Regions from separate parts of the Homo sapiens genome. Here all the other regions are linked to region 3. Evidence: fine-mapped expression QTL. A gene starts in region 3. Each other region holds a variant in brackets. All regions are shown on one strand. Distances are between the middles of the regions.

The links. PIP is the estimated chance that this variant, and not a neighbour inherited with it, causes the effect. A credible set is the group of variants that fine-mapping cannot tell apart.
Region 1: its variant is the best candidate, but not a certain one, in a credible set for the expression of PSME4 in whole blood (TOPMed, PIP 0.88).
Region 2: its variant is the best candidate, but not a certain one, in a credible set for the expression of PSME4 in lung (TOPMed, PIP 0.79).
Region 4: its variant is the best candidate, but not a certain one, in a credible set for the expression of PSME4 in whole blood (TOPMed, PIP 0.51).

The regions. Positions count from the first base shown.
Region 1 is chr2:53,810,218-53,815,217 of GRCh38, reverse strand. The region is part of intron 1 of GPR75-ASB3 (GPR75-ASB3 readthrough); the gene reads left to right. ERLEC1 (endoplasmic reticulum lectin 1) reads right to left here. Exons shown (of 14, transcript NM_015701.5): 11 at 2,145-2,269; 12 at 598-675; 13 at 283-358. Among named protein-coding and RNA genes, the nearest start is that of ERLEC1, 26 kb to the right of the region's middle. The variant G/C (reference allele first, on the strand shown) is at 2,790.
Region 2 is chr2:54,036,757-54,041,960 of GRCh38, reverse strand. It overlaps a transcript of ACYP2 not described here. Among named protein-coding and RNA genes, the nearest start is that of PSME4, 68 kb to the right of the region's middle. The variant A/G (reference allele first, on the strand shown) is at 2,852.
Region 3 is chr2:53,968,091-53,973,294 of GRCh38, reverse strand. PSME4 (proteasome activator subunit 4) reads left to right here and starts at 2,302. Exons shown (of 47, transcript NM_014614.3): 1 at 2,302-2,752. The coding sequence starts at 2,511. It also overlaps a transcript of ACYP2 not described here. RefSeq lists enhancers at 1,784-1,833, 2,129-2,423, 2,690-3,454 and silencers at 2,034-2,423, 2,298-2,459, 2,434-2,633.
Region 4 is chr2:54,053,820-54,059,023 of GRCh38, reverse strand. It overlaps a transcript of ACYP2 not described here. Among named protein-coding and RNA genes, the nearest start is that of ACYP2, 59 kb to the left of the region's middle. The variant C/T (reference allele first, on the strand shown) is at 2,290.

The sequences.
Region 1 (5,000 bases), 160 kb after region 3:
CCTGGCCAACATGGTGGAACCCCGTCTCTACTAAAAATACAAAAATTAGCTGGGTGTGGTGGTGTGCGCCTGTAATCCCAGTTACTCGGGAGGCTGAGGCAGAAGAATTGCTTGAACCTGGGAGGCAGAGGTTGCAGTGAGCCAAGATTATGCCACGGCACTCTGCCTGAGCCACAGAGCAAGACTCCGTCTCAAAAAAACAAAAAAAAAAAAAAAAAAAAAGAAAAAAAAATTAAAACATGGCTCAAAATGGAATTTTTGATTATTTTCTTTTTAACTTACCCCAAGAATATATTGACAGGAGTGAGGCTCTAGCATATATACAGTAACAGCATGAGGTGAATCTGATTCTTTGCACCTAAAACAGAGAGCACTTTAAGGTACTGTCCAAATCATTTAAAGTAAGATCACTGTTAATAACTGTACTCTTAAAAATCCCACTCAAGTGGACCCTGTATGATTTAATATAATTTTATCAATAATTTAAATGGTATACTTTCATAATTATTCATAATTATACTGTTTACATAAAACTTTTGTCCATAGGAAGCAGTTAAAAGACAAAGGCATACAGCATGATTTGATGGTCTAACTTACTTTAGTTTTACAGTCACCTGTCTTGGTTTGTCAGTTATATCACAAATATCTCCATTTCCATAAAAATGTGACACCATCCTGAATCAGAGAAACACACAAGTTTTATTAAACTAAAATCTCACTAATAGAATAATTGTAATGGGTAGGGTGAGAAGATGGTTAGAGGGATCAGTTTTGCATTAGTTAAAAAAAAACCTGACTATAAAATATTCTTTAAAAAAATATTTTTAGGGTTATCTCACAGAGGCATTCTCTTGGATTCTATAAAGAGAATATAAGAGATACTTCATACTGGCTTAGTTAATAATTATTTTCAACTTGCATATTATTTATTTGTATACAAATAATTTTGGTTAGATTCCTTTAAAAAAATTGTTTTAAAGTTATCAATTTCCCTAGCCCACTATATTGTTTTGTAAAACAGTTCTTTGCTTCCGTCCTCCATCAAGCTACTCCCATTAAAATACTGTTCGTTAGGCACTGTAGTATAGAAGACAAAGCCTAGGCCAAACTGTCAATCTCAAATGAGCAGGATCCAAAGAAAAGCTTCATTTTACCAGTCTAACACTCATTCTTCAACATATATTGTACATGATACCACAAACTGTTTTCACATAAAACATATACCTACAAGGATAAGAAAAATCAATTTGTTTAGTACAATAATTAAATGTCTGTGGGAGGGGGGAAGATAGCTTTAGGAGATATACCTAATGCTAAATGATGAGTTAATGGGTGCAGCACACCAGCATGGCACATGTATACATATGTAACTAACCTGCACATTGTGCACATGTACCCTAAAACTTAAAGTATTAAAAAAAAAAAAGTCTATGTTTTAATTTGGCTGACTTTGACTTTTATCAGCCCGAAAAGTCAGTACACTCTGAAAACAATCCAAATCATCTGTTTTAGGAAGGAAAAGGTAATACCCAAGAAGGAACAAGAAGGAATAATTGAAAACATACTGAGTTAAGAGTCTGCAAGAAAAGCTAATGCGTAGTTATTCTTGGGAAATGAGATTAACTTACTGGTGTTTTGACAAGGTATACTCATATATCCTAAAAGAGATGTGAGGTAGTTTTTAAAAAACACCCTCAGTTCTGACAGAATTGAGCCAGTTACTAACACCACTGCCACTCTCATTAATGTTATCACCCCCACTGTTATGGGTGGCAGCCCAGGTTTATTGCATGCTATTGCCAGGCATTCTCCTTTACATAAATTACCTCTTAAATGACACAATAATCATATGAGGCAAATACCATTACACAACAAAAGTGAGAGATAAAAAAGATGATGTAATTTCTCCAAGGTAGGAAGTGATGAGCCAGCATTTGAATCCAGGTAGTCTGACTCCAGGGACTGTGCTCTGAACTATTACACTGTGTTGCTTCCCTAAGAAAAGAAAACTAACCTAAAAGATATCCCTTGAAAAAAACTAAACAGGGATTTTACTTAAATGTTTGAATTTTTATGTTTTTCAATATTTTGAGTTTTAGAAATTGTAGTAATTAGCTCCAAAGGCAAGTAAAGTGAATCTTTACCTGACTGTCTGGGTACCATCGTCTTGAAGATGATAAGCTCTAGCAGTATTCTTCTTAGCCCATTCAATATGCTCTTCTTGGTTCCATGTCCCGACAACCACAGAGGTTTTCCCACTATCCTTGTCCTAATATGGGAAAAAAATTTGTGATAATGCGTGCTTGATATCATCAAGTAGATATTTATGCTGATGACCTGACCTTCTTGTAAGCTAGTCTTTATCTGCACAGTGGATATCTATATTTAGGTGTAATGATGTCAGTCAAATTCAATGAGTGGAAATTTAAGCACATTATCTTCTTTATTCCTTGTTTCTCTGAATAACATAACTAATTTTTAGTAAGGCTAGCTCTAAATGTAGTTATTTTCGGCTCTTCTATCTCTTTTTCTCTTCTACAGGTAAGTCCCATCAGTTCTTTCCTGGATATTTTTCAGCTTTAGACTCTTCCTCTACTTTTTCACTGCCAGCAACTCACCCCACAACCAAGAGTTTAATCTCTCATACCTAGATAATACTATCACATACTACTGCAATTCTTAATTGCATCTTTGGCCTCTATCTCTTCCACTGCAGCCTGACTTCATCCTACGCAATGTTATACTGATCTTTACACTATTCATTTGGTACCATACTTATTTCTCTATTG[G/C]AACTGTCTGTCCAGAAACCCCTTTTCCCATTCTGCTTTTATTATTTTTTAAACACTAACTATATACTGTCTTATATGTGGAAATCCTTCCTTCTTTCTTCTTCCTTATCCTTCCTACCTCCTTGCATTCCTTTGGTTTCTTTCTTCATAGTGTATGCCAGACAACCATGCTGGGCACTAATAGATATCTGGTTAGTAGAATTAAAAACCCCTGGCTGGGGCGCGGAGGCTCACACTTGTAATCCCACCATTTTGGGAGGCTGAGGTGGGCGAAATCACCTGAGGTCGGGAGTTCGAGACCGGCCTGACCAACATGTAGAAACTACTCTACTAAAAATACAAAATTAGCCGGGCGTGCTGGCGCATGCCTGTAACCCCAGCTACTTGGGAGGCTGAGGCAGGAGAATCACTTGAACCTGGGAGGCAGAGGTTGCAGTGAGCCAAGATTGCGCCATTGCACTCCAGCCTGAGCAATAAGAGGAAAACTCTGTCTCAAACAAAACAAAACAAAAAAAACCCCTATGGTGGCAAAGGAAACAAGCAGGGCCAATGCCCAGTGGAGCTTAGTGCCTAATGTAAGAGATAGCTAACAACATTTGTTTTTAGCAACTAGATTAAGTTCCTGGATAGGCAGAAATTAGAGCAGCAAAGTGAAGTGTTTTAAGAGGTTGGATATGGAGCCAGACTGCCTCGGTTGGAATTCCAGTTTCCCCAGTTACTACCTATTTGACTTTAGGCAAGTTATTGAACCTTTGTTTCTATTTCCTCATCTTGGAATAACAATAACCACTTCTTAAGGTTGTTATGAATATTAAAAGAATTAATACGTGTAAAGTACATAGTGCCTAGCATACAGTAAGCACCCTTTTTGCTAATTACTATTATTTTTAGTATCTCTCTAAACACCTAACAGAGTTCCCTAGAAAGTTCCAGGTTATGCAACCTTGGCTAAAATACGTTTGGTAAAACCTAGTGTTGGCAAGTGTATAGGAATGTAGCCACTGTTTATGGGAGTGTAAACTGGTCTAACTCTGGAAGGCAATTTTCCAGTATGCAGATACTTTGACCAAGGAAGTATGTTAATAGAAATGTCCCTTATGAATATACTTACAAAAGTATACCAACAGAACTATTTAAAAATGTTCACTAAAACATATCACAGCAAAAACTGGAAACAACTTAAAGGTCCATTAGCAGAGGTCTGGTCTGGTTAAATACACTGTGGTACAGACATAATCCTCTGTATCTGCTGAAAAGAATGAAATCGATTGTTGCTGACGTGGAGCAATCTCCAAGATACTAAGTGAAAAGAACAAGTGGCAGAGCAGTGCATGATACCTTCCCTATAAATAAAAAAGTTATACCAAGATCTATATATATGCATTTTTTTTCTTGTGGCAGGCTATGAAAATGTTAACAGTAGTTAAACTTTTTTGAGAAGTGGTATGATGGCAGAGGAGACAGATACTTCTCATTTAAAATTTCTGGCATACATTTCTTTAATTAAGAAACTCATCAGGTATTATAAGGGTTGTAGTTCAATGGTACTTTATCCTTTTTCTGTATTGTTATTAAAAAAACAAACATCTGCAAAGTAGCAGGAATAAATGGAAAGAATACTTAAATGAAACCTCTCAGGTTTAAGTGAAAAACAAAACAAAACAAAACAAAAAAACCGAACACATCCTAGTCTATGGATGCCTCATTCATTTTGGAAGATTTAAATGTGGAAGGTGAATTGACAGTCTGTCCCAGTATGATCTATCTTGGAATCTGAGATCAGTTCAAAACATTATGAGTGGGCAAATATACACTTTTCTATTTTGGGTATTATTTTCTTTTTTAGATAACGAAAATGGCCTTTTAAAGCAGCTAGGTCCATATTCATTAATTAAAGCTTGTCTTCAATACCTAGCAGCTTACTTTACTAAACAAAGTATAAGTAGGACAAATAACAGAATTGGAACTTGAACCTCAGAATTTAAGCAGGCTGGCTCAAGTATGGGAGAATACGGTGAGTTATAAAATTATAAATAAAAGAACTCAAAAAGTATAATCTTAAAACTTATTTTAAACTTAGATGATATGGTATTTTCTTTTTTTAAAATTTTTAAAATTTTTTGTAGAGATGGGGTTTTGCTATGTTGCCCAGGCTGCTCTTGAACTCCTGGCCTCAAGTGATCCTCCTGCCTTGGCCCCCCAAAGTGTTTG
Region 2 (5,204 bases), 69 kb before region 3:
TCCAGAACTGTGTGAGGTGTCTCATGCCTGTGGTCCCAGCAACTTGGGAGGCTGAGGCGGGAGGATTGCTTGAGCCCAGGAGGTTGAGGCTGCAGTGAGCTGTGATCGTGCCAGTGTACTCCAACGTGGGCAACAGAGCAAGACCCCACTCTAAAAAGAAAAAAATGCATTCTAAGTGGGGAAACAATTTATTCTTTCATGTATGCGTTCATTTGATACCTCACCCAGCTTAAACTCACTTATATTATGTTGCATGTACCCTCAGCTCCCTTGCCGCCTCTGACACTGAGATACTCACTTGAATAAACAATAACCTTTGTTGAAGAAAACATTCCCCATAGTCCAGTCGTACACCTGTGCAGCCAAATGCAACTAGTGAAGAACCAAACCATACTAAGAGATCTCACTTTAAATTCATGATCATAAGTTTTGAGTAAGCCCTTAATGCTGCTAACAACCACACTGAATTTCCCTGGCCCTTTTATTCTCCCACTCTCCTGGGTGACTATTTCACACCTTCTCTGTCCTCAAACCTCAAATACTTACTCACCTCCCCTCATCATTCTGATGCCCTTGCTTCCTATTTCACTGAGAAAATAGAATGAATCAGAAGAGAGCTCCCACAAACACCCACCGCTGCATCATGCCCATATTCTGGGCTTCCTTCCTGTGACTGTAGAGGAACACTCTGTGCCCCTAGAAAAGGCCACCGCTGGCCGGGCGTGATGGCTCATGCCTGTAATCCCAGCACTTTAGGAGGCTGAGGCAGGCAGATTGCATGATGCCAGGAGTTCAACACCAGCCTGGGCAACATGGTGAAACCCTGTCTCTACAAAAAATACAAAAAAAAAGAAAGAAAGAAAGAAAGAGAGAGAGAGGAAAAGAAAAGAAAAAAAGAAAAGAAAAGGCCACCGCTTTCCTTGTGAACCAGACACCACCTACTCAAGGACATCACTCCAGCAATTCTCCTCTCAATCACCTGCATCAGCTCATCCCTTTCCCCTGGATCTTTTCCACCTATCTATGAACACTATTTCTCCCATTTTTGAAAAACCCTCTGTTGACCTCACTTCCTCTTTCAGCTACTACCTCCATTTCTTTCTTTCCTAGGGGTTGTCTATATTCCCCATGTCCAGTACCTCTCTAAAACCTAATATAGTCAGTTATTTATCCAATCCACTTCAGTTAAATCACTCTCATCAAGATCTCCTCCACTTTCCTGTTGCTATATCCAACAGCCAAGCCTTAATTTTCATCTTACTTGATCAGTTAGTAGAATGTGATTACTCTTTCCTCCTGAACCACTTTCCATATAGTTTTTAGAAGGGCACTTACCTAATCTTTCCCCTATTTCTCTGGCTGCTCATTATCAGTCTTCTATGTTAGGTCCTGTTCATCTCTCTGACCTCCAAAACTTGGAGCATCCCAAGATTCAGCCCTTGTACCTCTTCTGCTTTCCATCTTCACTGACTCATTTGGCAATCTCCTCTAGTCTCATGACTTGAACTATCATCTAGGATGTGCTAACAGTGTCCGGTCTGCATGTCTCCCCTATACCCCAGATTCACATATCCAGCTGCCTCCTTAATATTATCACTTGAATAAAAGACATCTCAAGTTTAACAAGTCCTAAACTGAACTCCTGATTGCTGCTTGTCACTGCCCTACCACCAAATCCTGTTCCTTTTCTTCTTTTCCCGAGTTGCAGAGTTCAAAGCCTTGAAGTCATACTGGATGCTTCTTTTCCTCTCACACCTCACATCTGACCTATCAGCAGATCTGTCTGATTAACCTTCAGCATATGTCCAGAATCTGACCAATTCTCACCACTTCCACTACTACCACTGCTGTCTTTTACCTAAATTACTGTGGGAACCTCCAAACTAGTCTCCCAGCTTCCATCTTTGACATGTTGAGATTCTTCTCAACACAGAAGCCTGGGCCAGGCACAGTGGCTCATGACTGTAATCCCAGAACTTTGGGAGGCCAAGGCACAAAGATCTCTTAAGCCCAGGAGTTTGGGGCTGCAGTGAGCTATGATTGTACCACCACACTCCAGCCTGGGCAACAGAGCAAGACCCTGTCTCAAAACACACACACACACACACACACACACACACACACACACACACACACACACAAAAGAAAACAAATATAAAACACAGAAGCCTGAGTGACACCGATAAAAACATAAATTCAAGAAGATCACTCTTCTGCTCAAAAACCCTCCAAGCCCTCCAAAGGGCTGCATGTGCTGGCTCATGCCTGTAATCCCAGAGCTTTGGGAGGCTGAGGTGGGTGGATCGAGGAGTTCGAGACCAGCTTGGGCAACATGATGAAACCCCATCTCTACCAAAAATACAAAAATTAGCCAGGTATGATAGTGCACACGTGTAGTCCCAGCTACTAGGGAGGCCAAGGTGAGTGGATTGCTTGAGCTCAGGAGTTCGAGATCAGCTTGGGCAGCATCATGAAACCCCATCTCTAGAAAAAATACAAAAATTAGCCAGGCATGATAGTGCACACCTGTAGTCCCAGCTACTAGGGAGGCTGAGGCGGGAGGATCGCTTGAGCCTGGGAGGCAGAGGTTGCTTGAGCCAAGATCACACCACTGCCCTCCAGCCTGGGCCACAGAGTGGGACCCTGTCCCCCCCCGCCAAAAAAAAGGAAAAAGAAAAAAAGAGAAGAAAAGAAAAAAAAAATTAAAGCACGATGTAGGCTGGGGAAAAAAAAAAAAAAAAAACTTCCAAAGATATTTTTAGTAAAAGTTCAACTTGAAAAATTATTTTAAAGCCCTACATGCTCTGCTCACTGCCCATTCTCTCCCAACCTCACCCTCTACTTCTTTCCC[A/G]CTTCCCTGTTCTATTATAGGAGCACGCTCCCCACCCTTTGCTGTTCCTTGAACATTCCAGACACCTCAGGACCTTTGTACTAGCTGTTCCTGGGATGTTCTTCCCCCAGATATGACTCACTCATTCACTCACTCAACTCCTTCCCTCAAATATCTCCTTCTCAGTGAGCCCTTCCCTGTTAACCCATCTAAAATTGCAATTTCAAGAGCTCCTTTTCCCACTTACTGGCTTTACTTTTTTTTCCTGCAGAATTTATTGCCACCTATGGAACAAATGTTTATTTTATTTATCTTTTTTTTTTTTTTTTTACCTATTCTGACAACCAAAATGTGAGCTCCAAAAAGGTGGGGGTTTTTTCATCTTTTTTCATTGCTGTATCTTAGCACTTAGAAGAGTATATATATATATATATATATATATATATATATATATATAGTATTCAATAAAGATTTATTGAATGAATGAATGCCTACTGTATGCAAAGAATCACCTTTAGGTTCTGGTGAAACAGAGAGGAATAAAGTTACTGAACACTCTGCACTTCAGGTTCCTCATCTACAAAATGGAGATAATAATAAGCCTCATGGGACTATTACAAGGATTAAATGATCAATAACTTATGTAGTGCTTAGAATAGCACCACGCACTTAGTAAGTACTATGTTAAGTAAATAAAATACATACATATATATATTTAAATCCCTGCCCTCAAGAAGCTCACATATAGTGGAAAGTAAGATATATTTGCAAAAAAAACAAAGAGTATGCAGTGTTAGCAAAGAAGACGGGAAAAGGGTCAACTTACCCTTAGGGTGAAAGAAGCCTTCACAGAGAAGCTGAACTTAATGTGAATCTTGGAGAATGAGGAGGTGTCTACCAGGCCAAAAATAAGGGCATCCTAGGCCAAGGACAACCGAACAAATGTTTGAATCAGGACGCTCAGAGGTTAGAATAAATCTGTCCTCCCACCTTCCAGGAAGTGTTGATCCAGAGTTGTCTCAATATATCCAGCTTGTTTTTCCTACTTCATGCTTTAATTTCCTTATTATATAAGGGAAGGTGTTGGTAACACTGAATATTAAATTGTAGTAATTTCACTGTGTAGGAGAGAAAGCTTCGGAGATTTTTACACCCTGGGGAAATATTTATTCCAATCTGCATGATGCACACAGTGAAAAGCACCTGCTAGCTCTAAGTCACCTTCACATTCCTGAAAGAATTTCCAAGTTTCTCATAGTTTATTGATATTTATAATGTTGATATTTTCAATCTTCTGATATGACCATTGATAACCACCTAGCTTATTAAAAGTCTTACATTTCATTTGTTTCAAAAGCACTCTGATTTCGATTTTACTATATATTTTATTCACTTTTTTAAAGTTAATTAAAAGCATGTTTTAGGCCGGGCATTATGGCTCACCCCTGTAATCCCAGCACTTTGGGAGGGTGAGGGGGGAGGATCACTTGAGGCCAAGAGTTCAAGATTAGCCTGGGTAACATTGTGAGATCTCATCTCTACAAAAAATTTAAAAGTTAACTAGGCATAGGGGTTCACTGTGGTCCTAACTACTCAGGAGGCAGAGGTGGTTGGATTGCTCGAGCCTAGGAGGTTGAGGCTGCAGTGGGCCGTGATTGTGCCACTGCACCTCAGCCTGGGTGACAGAGCAAGACTCTGTCTCAAAAAAACAAAACAAGCTTGGTATGGTGGCTTATGCCTGTAATCCCAGCAATTTGGGAAGCTGAGACAGGTGGATCACTTGAGAACAGGAGTTTGAGACCAGCCCAGGGAACATGGTGAAACTCCGTCTCTACCAAAAATACAAAAAAATTAGACAGGCATGGTGGTGGGCGCCTGTAATCCCAGGTATTTGGGAGGCCGAGGCCAGAGGATCACTTGAGCCTGGGAGGCAGAGGTTCTAGTGAGCCAAGATTGCACCACTGCACTCCAACCTGGGTGACAGAGCGAGATTCTGTCTTAAAAAACAAAACAAAATTCTAACGTCCATTGAAATATTTTCTAAAGGAGTTTTTCTCTACATTAAAAAATAGGAGTTAGGTCCTTTGGCCAGAAACTCAATGTAAAATTATATACATATTAATTAGGGACAACATTACTTCACACAACTCTAAGTCCTCTTAAATGAGTGATCTAGAAATCAGAGGAGAGGGACCTGACCATGAAGCAGTCAAGGCATCATCCAGGGAAGACCGCAGGGGCCACGCAGGAGGTAACAGAGCACCACAGTTGGGTGTCCAGTTTTCAGGATATGGTCCAGAAACAGTCCCGCCAATGTCCTGGGTGTAGGCCCTGAGAGATCCTAGACATTCAAATGCCACTTTATTCATTTACA
Region 3 (5,204 bases):
TTGTCCATATTTGCTGCCTCTATTTATTCACTTCCCATTTGTCCTTTGTCACCATAATCAGATTTCTATTCTACACTCCAACGACACTGTTCTTATGCGCTTTATCAATAAACTATCCAATAAACCCTTTCAGGTTTCACTTCATTTGACCTGTTAGCTACCTAAGGTAGGATTGTTCGCTTCTCCATGAGACACCCAGTTTCCTAGAACTCCTCCTCTCTCTGCTTTTTGTGAATATTCTTTGTGGCCTACCTTCCTTTTCTCTGTCTGTCCTTAAATGTGGGGCTCCTCAGAGATTTGTGAAGGGCCCTATTTTTTCATACTGTATATTTCCTTCCCTCCTGTCGTCCATCTACACGCTAATCTGCATCTCAGTTTAGATCACCCTCCTGATACATATGTCAACATACCCATCCCATAGGCATTCTGCCTCCCAAGCTGTTTCTGCTGTGTTCTTTATCTCAGTGAAGGACTTCACCTATCTACCCAGCGTCGTCTTGTCTCTTTCCTTTTTAATTTTTCACTTTCAGTCAACTACTAAGCCCAAGCCATTCTGCTGAAGTAGCTCTCAATTTCAACTGACATCCAGGCCATGATTATGTCACACCTTAAAGGGTCCTCCAGTTCCCAATCTTGTCAGTTCCAACCCATTTTCCAGACGAAGCCAGAGTGACTCTTTTTTTTTTTTGAGACGGAGTCTCGCTCTGCCACCCAGGCTGGAGTGCTGTGGCACGATCTCGGCTCACTGCAAGCTCCATCTCCCGGATTCACGCCATTCTCCTGCCTCAGCCTCCCGAGTAGCTGGGACTACAGGCGCCCGCCACCATGCCCGGCTAATTTTTTTGTATTTTTAGTAGAGACGGGGTTTCACCATGTTAGCCAGGATGGTCTCCATCTCCTGACCCCGTGATCCACCCGCCTCGGCCTCCCAAAGTGCTGGGATTACAGGCGTGAGCCACCACGCGCCTGGCCCTTTTATTTTTTGAGACGGAGTTTCGCTCTTGTTGCCCAGGCTGGAGTGCCCTGGCGCGATCTTGGCTCACTGCAACCTCCGCCTTCCGGTTTCAAGCGATTCTCCTGCCTCAGCCTCCCGAGTAGCTGGGATTACAGGCGTCCGCCACCACGCCCGGCTAACTTTTTTGTATTTTTAGTAGAGACGGGGTTTCACCATGTTGGCCAGACTGGTCTCGAACTCCTGACCTCGTGATCCGCCCGCCTCGGCCTCCCAAAGTGCTGGGATTACAGGCGTGAGCCACTGCGCCCGGCCGCCAGAGTAATTCTTAAAAAATGTAAATTATATCATCCCACTGCTATGCTTAAAATCTTTTGGAAGTTTGTCTCTAGGATAAAGCTCTGAATTCCTTAGGATTGCCTTCTCAGTCTCATTTCTCCGTCCCCTCTCTTACGCTATTTTGAACTTTGAATTTTTAGAATACATGCTTGCAGCGTCAAAGCTGTTCTCTCAGCTGAAATACGTGTCCTCCTCCCTCCTTTTTCTAACCAACTTTGCACTCAACCTTCATAGCTTAAATTAAGTATCACTTCTAGGAAAATGACACCCTCTCAAACCCCCTAGTTTCAACTTCTTTGTAGAGTTCCTAAGGATTCTTGTACTTATCTAGCAATTAAGAGCATTATCTTGTAATTCACGTCTTTATCTCTGCTAGACTAAGTCCTTGGGAGGGCGGAAACCAGGTTAAACTTTCTATCTCAATAGCCTAAACTGAGCGCCTTACACACAAAACAGCTGTTCAAATAGCATTTGTTCAGCGAGTAACTATTTTCTTCTTTGGAATGATGGCGGCCAGAATACCAGAAAGATGGGGACTTAAAGGGGACAGAAAAATTAAATCTATAAGGAACAAGCGGGATGGAGTAAATAAATCTATAAGGAGCAAGTGGGTACGTAGGCTTTTCCATAAACCCCTCTAACCCAGAAGCCGGGGCTGCTCGGCTAGGGGGACCAGGCCGACCTGGCTGCCGCCTGTCGTGGCGACTGGGACTCCAGTGGGCTGCCGCTTGGAGTGCGCGACCCCCGGCGAAGCAGGACAATAGCTTGGAATTCGGCCTCGTGTTTCCGGTGAGGCAGCCTCGCGCTGGGCCGGTGAGGCCTGGGGTGGGGGCTCCGAGCCGGGCCCACGGCGAAGAAGGCGCAGCCCGTTGGGCTCCAGCTGCCGCCACCACCGCCTCCCCCGACGCCGTCGCTCCGCCCCGCCCCGCCCCGGAAGTGACTTGAGGCCGGTCCGGAACCTCTGGGCCCGGCGGCTGCAGCGTCACCAGCAGAGCCGGTGCGGGGCGGGCAGAGCGGCCGCTGCCGCCGCCAACGAACTGAGAGCCGCGTGGGGCCCAGCAGCACGCCGGCCAGGGAAGGGGGCCTAGCGATCGGTCCGAGGGCGACGGGCCGCCAGCGGCCGCAGGGCGACGAAGACGCGGAGGAGGCGGAGCCCGGAGAGGGGTGGGGGCCGGGGAGGGTTCGGGTGGGAGGGGGTGGGGGGGGTGTCCCTGGGCTCATGGAGCCGGCCGAGCGGGCGGGAGTCGGAGAGCCCCCGGAGCCGGGCGGGCGTCCCGAGCCGGGCCCGCGGGGCTTCGTCCCGCAGAAGGAGATCGTCTACAACAAGCTGCTGCCCTACGCGGAGCGGCTAGACGCCGAGTCCGACTTGCAGCTGGCCCAGATCAAATGCAACCTGGGCCGGGCCGTGCAGCTCCAAGAGCTGTGGCCCGGGGGCCTCTTCTGGACCAGGAAACTCTCCACGTAAGTGTGCCCGGGCCTGCGGGCCGGGCCGGGGGGAAAGGCTCAGTGAGAGGTGTCGGGGATGGTTGCTCTTTGTCCAGAGGGCTGGACCCTTAGCTCTGTCCTCGCTGGAGCTGTCCCCGAGCGGTGATCCCAGGGTCGTGACAGAGCCTGTGAAGTACTCAAGCCGTCCTCCCTGCCACTTTCCTACGGGACTTCCCGGGTCTTTACCATCCCTCTACGTCCTCCGCATCTGCTTCTCCCGAAGTGTTCGGGTTGTTGTCTTCCCACCTGGGGGGCCCTGGGTAGCCCAAGGGCCCCGGCCCCGAGGGAGAGAGGTGAGCCTTTCTCAAGGGTCCTCCGTGGACTTTTGCGCATGGGAGAGGCGGGGCAAAGAGAATTTGTCTTTGGGGGAGTTCCTTGACTTGTCTCCTTGCTTCCTCCGGTTCTTCCTTCCCCTACGATCCCCGCCTCTTCGCATCTCCGTTGGCGTCTAGTAACTTTCTGAATGGAGAGAAGACCATAGGGAAACTTAAGGGTTTTGCTTTTTGGGGGCCCTCTCAGACCTGGCGGAGTTGATCGAAAAGGGTCGTTTAAAGTCAGACCTCATTCTTGAGCTTAACGTCTTATGTGGACAGTGTTGTTTTGGATTGTGTGTTGCTCCTGTTGTGACATTTCTTTTGGAGAGACATTTAAGATACTGAGGAAAGTAGGGAAGAGCACTGTCAGGATGTCCAGGGCGATATTAGTATCAGGCTTGTGTTAATTTTTTGAGTTACTCAGATTAAGAGATTACCTAAATCAGTTTCAGGAGTTCTGTTTGTAAACTAGCTTCAAACTATAGTGTCACTGAAATTAGGAAAAAAAAAAAAAAAACGAGTGAAAATACAGTGGGGGAAAAAAGGTTACATTTACTTGCTGGATGGGCATCTTTACTGTGTCCGAAGAGCTTTTTAAGAAAGAATTTTGCTGTATCTTGTTTGGTTAACTGTACATAAAATCTAGTAACATGGTATGTTCACGCATGTGGGTATGGACGGGTGAACACACAAGACATAACTCACTCATTCAGTGTTTACCCAAAGCTGCTGATTGAACTGAGTGATGACTCAGGGTTTTGTAATAGTTTTGTGTATATTCACTGGATGATTCTCATCTGCCAATTATTAAGGGGCCTCTGACAAATTTCTCATTTCCACTTGAGGGGTGGGTGGGACCTTTTTAATTAAAAAGAAGCAAAACTAAAACATGTAATTTGCCCTCTTCAGAGAGTGATCATAAAATGTCAAGGTTAACAGCTCTCCCCTTGACTAGAGTATAATGAAGTTTTTCGTGTTAGGATCCTTAGGAGAATGGAGGTGAGGGGCGGCAGAAGCAGGAATGCAACAGGGAGAACCACGTTTAGTCAAAAAAGAATATTTTATAAATAGTTAAAATCCAAATGCTTTTTCAAGTGAGACTCCTAGGTTTTTGTGTTGCTCAGGCACAGTAAAAATAGTCACTTTGTTACAGTAATTCCCCATTTTAATCACTTGGATTAGACTTGCCAGAGAATACCTACCATTTTTGGGGACGCAAACAGCTTTTTTTAGTGTACATTATATAAATATGCCATGGTGTGAAGGCATATCTGCTTTGGATTTATAAACCTAGAATCTACCAAGGCATAGTTAAGCATTGTTTTCTAAAGTATTTATTGTTAACAAGTTTGGTAAATTAGCACTCCGAGTTTTGTTATTGTTTTGGCTTATTAGATAAAAGTTTGTACCTAGAAAGGGCTAAAAATAACAATGGAGCTAATGTTTGGTGTTTAGGGCTGGATTGCAGATAGCTGATGGCTTAATACCCATGAACCCATAACCATTTATAGCTAAATAACCAGCAAGAAATGCTACTGGGTAGAATTTTATTTTGGAATAGTGGTTAGATGCTGGAAACTGATTCTTGATATTGCACTATGAGACATTTTGAATGCGGTGGGACATGTTGTGATCTTGGGTGTGTTTTTTTCCTAAGTCATGTTAAGGTGACCTGTTCATAGTTGTGCTTGTTGTTTTTTAAGCCTTCTGTGTTGCATAAGTGAACATCTGAATAATGCCAAAACGTGTGACGAAAGCTGAGTGGTGATCATATTTAGTACTTTGTAGAATAGAAAGTGGTAATGAAAAGAAAATCTAGTTTCTCCCACTAGCTCTGAGACTGTGGGAAAGTTACTTAATCATGTGTTTCAGTATGCTTGTGCGTGAAATGAGGGGATTGGACTAAATAATTCTTTTTTTTTTTTTTTTTGAGGTGGAGTCTTGCTTTGTTGCCCAGGCTGGAGTGCAGTGGCAGGATCTTGGCCCACTGCAATCCCTGCCTTTCGGGTTCAAGCGATTCTCCTGCCTCAGCCTCCCAAGTAGGTAGGATTATAGGCGAGTGCCACCATGCCTGGCTACTTTTTTTGTATTTTTAGTAGAGACAGGGTTTCACC
Region 4 (5,204 bases), 86 kb before region 3:
CATAAACCACAAATAACATCTCCAACCAGAAACTTTCCAAACCCCTCCGTGACCAGAGACATGCTAGCCATGAGATAACCCACCTCCAGTGGGGAAGATACCAGCCTTGAGATAACCCCCATCTGGGTGGAAAGATGTCTGCCCCAAGATAAACATCCCTCCTCCCAGAGACATTCCAACCCCACCATAAAACTTCTCCCTCACACAGAAACATTCCAAGCTTATAATAAGCCCCTTCACCCTAAGACCAATATATACTCCAATATATAGTCTGTAAGAGAAAGTGCTCCTGACCAAAAAAAAAAAAAAAAAAATTATCAGCCAGAAGCCCCTCTCATGTTTTATCTAAAGTAAACCTGTCTTAACTGCCAAGCCACATTTTGTGTTTCTTTCCTCTTTCTTTAACTCTTACAGGTGGTACAATGAAGGATAAGTAGTCAAAGTACAATACTTGGGTTACCAATGACCAACACTGACATCATAATGTAAATACTCGATATTGAATTAACTAGAAATGAAGTTAGAATTATATTAGAATGACAGGAGAGGGAAATATGTGTGTGTCAGGGGTTAATAGATAATATCTAAAATTTGTAAATGAAGACATAGGTGTATAATGATAGGCATTTTATATCAGGAAAAACTACTGAAGATTTAAAAGCCCCTGGGAAGCACAGCTGAGGGGAGGGAGAAGGTACTGCTTTTTTTTTTTTTAATATAAGCTTTGTAGTACTATTTAATATTGTATATAGCTTTGTACTACTTTGATAAAACAAACTGATAACCCTGCCCCCAAAAAGAACCAATGAGAATAAGTCCAGAGCTTATTCACATTTTAGCTTGTATCATGCGTTAACACCAACACTCCATTTAATGTGAATTATCTTCAAAGACCCAATATTTACTAAATTTAGGAAGAGACCAATCATTGCTTCATATGCCCTACCTCCCTCAGGGACCAATACTTGAATTTTCAAAGCATTATTCACAAAGGGAAAAATATTTTCTCCTATTTTCTATGTGTGATAAGTGAATATCCCAAAGCATGAAATATGAATTTAAAATATTTGTTTTCCAAATGTTCATTGATTCTTTACATTTACTACACCACATCTGTTTGGCATTTAATAACCAAATCAAAAGCCTCTCTTCCTCTGCTCTGCCTTAGCCACTCAATCCCCTCTCAAATGGTGACCTCATTACATCACCCAGGGCCTTCCCTGCTTTGACTCCTCATTTGAGTAATTCCCACATTCACCTTACAAACTGCCAAATATTCAGTATCCTATAAACAACAGTATTATATATATTTTTGCTAACAACATATATATACACACATATATATATAAAACAGTAAAGAAGTGTATAAATTCAGAACCTATTAATCTAGAGTAAACAAATTTAGTATGCTTCTAATAAAACGTACTTCTCTGGTAGACAGAACAGTCTGTCAGTGCTTACATGACTGTAAAAAACTATCTTTGAATTGAATCAATCAAACATAGACTCAATATTCGTTTCTTTTACATGGGCACTTTTTCCCTCAAAATGTCTCTAACAGATAAGTTCTGCCATCCTGAGGCTAATTTTATATACCAAAATGTTCTGATGAACTGTAAAAGGTAGATATTCATTAAAATCAGTATTTATTTTGAAGACTTACTTAAGCAAATTGTTGATTTTATGAAAGTAGTTGATGAGCAAGAAATGTTCTCCTTCCATGGTTCTTCACTCACAATTATGACTTGACCAAAACCAAACTCTGATAATTGTATGAATTTATAGCTGGAAACAAAATATGTGAGAACAGTAAGAAAAAGTTCATCACCAAGAAACCCCAAGGGCAGGTTGCATAGTTATGTCATGAAATCAGTCAATCTAGACAATCTAATTTATGGTTCAAGTCAAAATTCATATCCCTTCCCTATCAACCCAAATATTGAAAGGGAAAACACACTAGAAAGCTATTTTATCTGAATTATTGGGATAATAGCTATAATTTTCACATAGTTTTGCAAATGGAATTAATGTTTTGGTGTGAGCAAGATATTGATAAACTATTTGTCATATCAGTTAGATATATTAAACATATATAATGAATAAATGAAATAAAAAGCATTTGTCTTACACAAATAATTAAGTTCCTTTAAGTTCTTTTTAAAAGTATTTTTTTCTGATTTTAGATTTACAGAAAATTCATTATATTCTTAATATAGGAATCAACAGGTAATATAGTAGAAAGCTATTAAAGTACAGGTGACAAATGGCAAATAAAATACAGATGACATA[C/T]ACAACATGCAATATAGTTACTATTTTCTGAATAAAAAATCTGGACCAAGATAAGCCCTTCCATGGGAAAAATAAATAATTTGAAAACAGAACTATCTTAGAAAATCCAGAATGTGTCATGATTGAAAATATACATCATTATAAATGCAAAGAAAGATATCATTCATTTAAAGAATACAAAGAGGTTCCATTTGATACTTATTTTACCATCTAGAATTCAACTGCACATTCTGAGCAAAAATATCTTTAAAAAAGAAATGGAAATAAAAGCAGTACAGGGTATTATGCTTCTGTTAAACTCAGTGAGCATGTGCCCTTGCCAATGGATATGATCAAACCTAAATCAGTCAAGGGATGTTGACAACCTGTGGAAAGAACATATGATTTTATTTGAATTGTATCCTGGACGATGGGCAAATATGTCAGAAACTGCCCATGTCACCAGGCCGTGAATGGTGATATCTTCTTTGCTGCCTATCAGTTCAGTAGATAAGCAGATAAACTTAGGGTGTCCTGCTTGGGTGACACCCTGATTAGTTCCACCAGTGCCTGGTTCCACTCATGAATCCTCCTCAAGCTGGTGGAAGACAACCAGCTCTTTTTCTCTACTCCCTGGAGAACCTTTTCTATATGGACATCTTTTTTGAAATTAACTACATTAATCCAGAAAAAGCAGCATTTTGAAATCATAGGAGCCTGGTGCAAATAATTTATTTAACTTCTCTGAGCTTAGGTTTCCATGGAGTGAAAGAAATCTATTTACAGTATGCCTATGGGGGTACTATATCTGACAGTACTACTATATTACAGTATGTCTATGGAGGTACTATATCTGACAGTACTACACATTATTAGACTCTGTGTTTATCACAACACATGTTACAGAATACACAATTTCAATATGTGTCAAATATTTCTCTAACTTCAGAATTCAATTCATAACTGAACACTTAGATGCATTGTTCTCTCTGCCAAATTGGACCTCTGGGTGCATGTAATTTGTTGAACAGCAGATAGGCTTAATATGTCTTTGGCTATTATGTAGTATATGGAGGGTGTCATAGGACAGGTTTTAGAGTTAGATTTAGGATGAAATTCAATCTCCACCATCACGTCCTAAATATATGCTATTAAGAAATTCGATTAACTTCTCTGAGCCTCTATTTTCTATTTGTAAAATAGGAAAATAATACTTTTTCTATCTACCTCACAAGGATTTTTGTAGGAATGAAATTGGACAATATATGTCAAAATGCTTTGTGAATAATAGAATGCTATATAAATACAAATTGTTTACATTATTATCACAATTATTACTGTGAGTAATGGAATTACTATAAATAATAATTTTATTATTCCTGACACATGATTTAGGAAAAAAGGAAGAAATTATCTCATTTAAGAAAAACCAGGCTGGGTGCCTGTAATCCCAGCACTTTGGGTGGCCAAGGCAGGTGGATCTCTGAGGTCAGGAGTTCTAGACCAGCTTGGCCAACATGGTGAAACCCCATCTCTACTAAAAATACAAAAATTAGCTAGGTGTGGTGGTGCACACCTGTAGTCCCAGCTACTTGGGAGGCTGAGGCAGGAGAATTGCTTGAACCCGGGAGGTGGAGGGTGCAGTGAGCTAAGATCACACCACTGCACTCTAGCCCGGTTGACAGAGCGAGACTCTGTCTAAAAAAAGAAAAAAAGAAAAAGAAAAACCAGTTGTTGCATAGCCAGCTCTTTTTTATATGAGGAAAAGTTAGTAAGTAAATATTTACGTAAAGCCAGAGAATTAAAATACAACTTCTAGTCTGCACACTACTACTGAAACTTCTTGGAGAAATCTCCCTAATTTATTTAGCCTGGCTTTCTTATCTCTAAAGTAATATCTACCTCATTAGATTTCTATGAGGACAAACATGGGAAAACAATGGGAGATATGTCAAATCCTTTAGAAGGAAGTCTCTTGTATTCAGATGAGTTATATGTTCCTTCTTTAGATATATGATTGTGGGCAATCATCTCACCTTGGTAATGCATCTTATTTTATGAACAAGACTGCAGATATCATTATCAGAGATGTATAGTTGTGGTAGAGTTAACCCAGGAAATCTTTAAGGAGCACTGGAGAACCTCAGCTTCACTCTTTAATTATAGCATGGTTAACACACAGTACTGTTATGTTAAGAAGACTTCAAACCACAGCTAAGTAAAATCGAGAGACAAAAATGACCCATTGTTTGCAGAAGAGGAGAACAGAACATTCAAGAAAATCAAAACAAGATCAATCTGTCAGCAGAATATCACAAGGACTTCGAACTTCCTTTTCAGACCCAGGAAATTTTCTTTAAAAGAGAAACTTAGAAATGCATCGTTGGCAAGAAAGAGAAAGAAGCAAAAGAAGAACCTTTTTTACATTATTAGCACATTATACCTAATCTAGAAACTATCTGTCTCTTATGCTATTTTTAAGTGCCACCTCAATGAAAAGAAGGTGAATTTTACATCTCACTGTAACTAATAATGTTCCCAGAATAAGTTATCTTATTCCATTGTAGGCAGAAGTCTAGCAAACGTCTTAAACCCTTACCAGCTCTGGGTTATGATAGGCACTCAGAAGCTGTTCTTTCATTGTACAGGAAAATCCCTATCTCGAAACTGTACTTGAATATAAGCCAGGATCTGGGCCTAGGGCCTGAGTTACTGGTTAGGGTTTTTATACCAATTCCATCCTCTACCCAGAGAGTCTGTGCCAGTATCAACATCAAGTTTCTTGACAGGAAATTGCTTTCTTCCCTTTCTTGAAATGAGATTTAATGAAAGACCAGAACACCTGTTGCCCTCTCCCAGTGAGAGTAAACTTTAATTAGTTAGGGTCTAATCAAGAGCAAAAACCACATAGTAATTTAAACAGGGATGTTTAATAT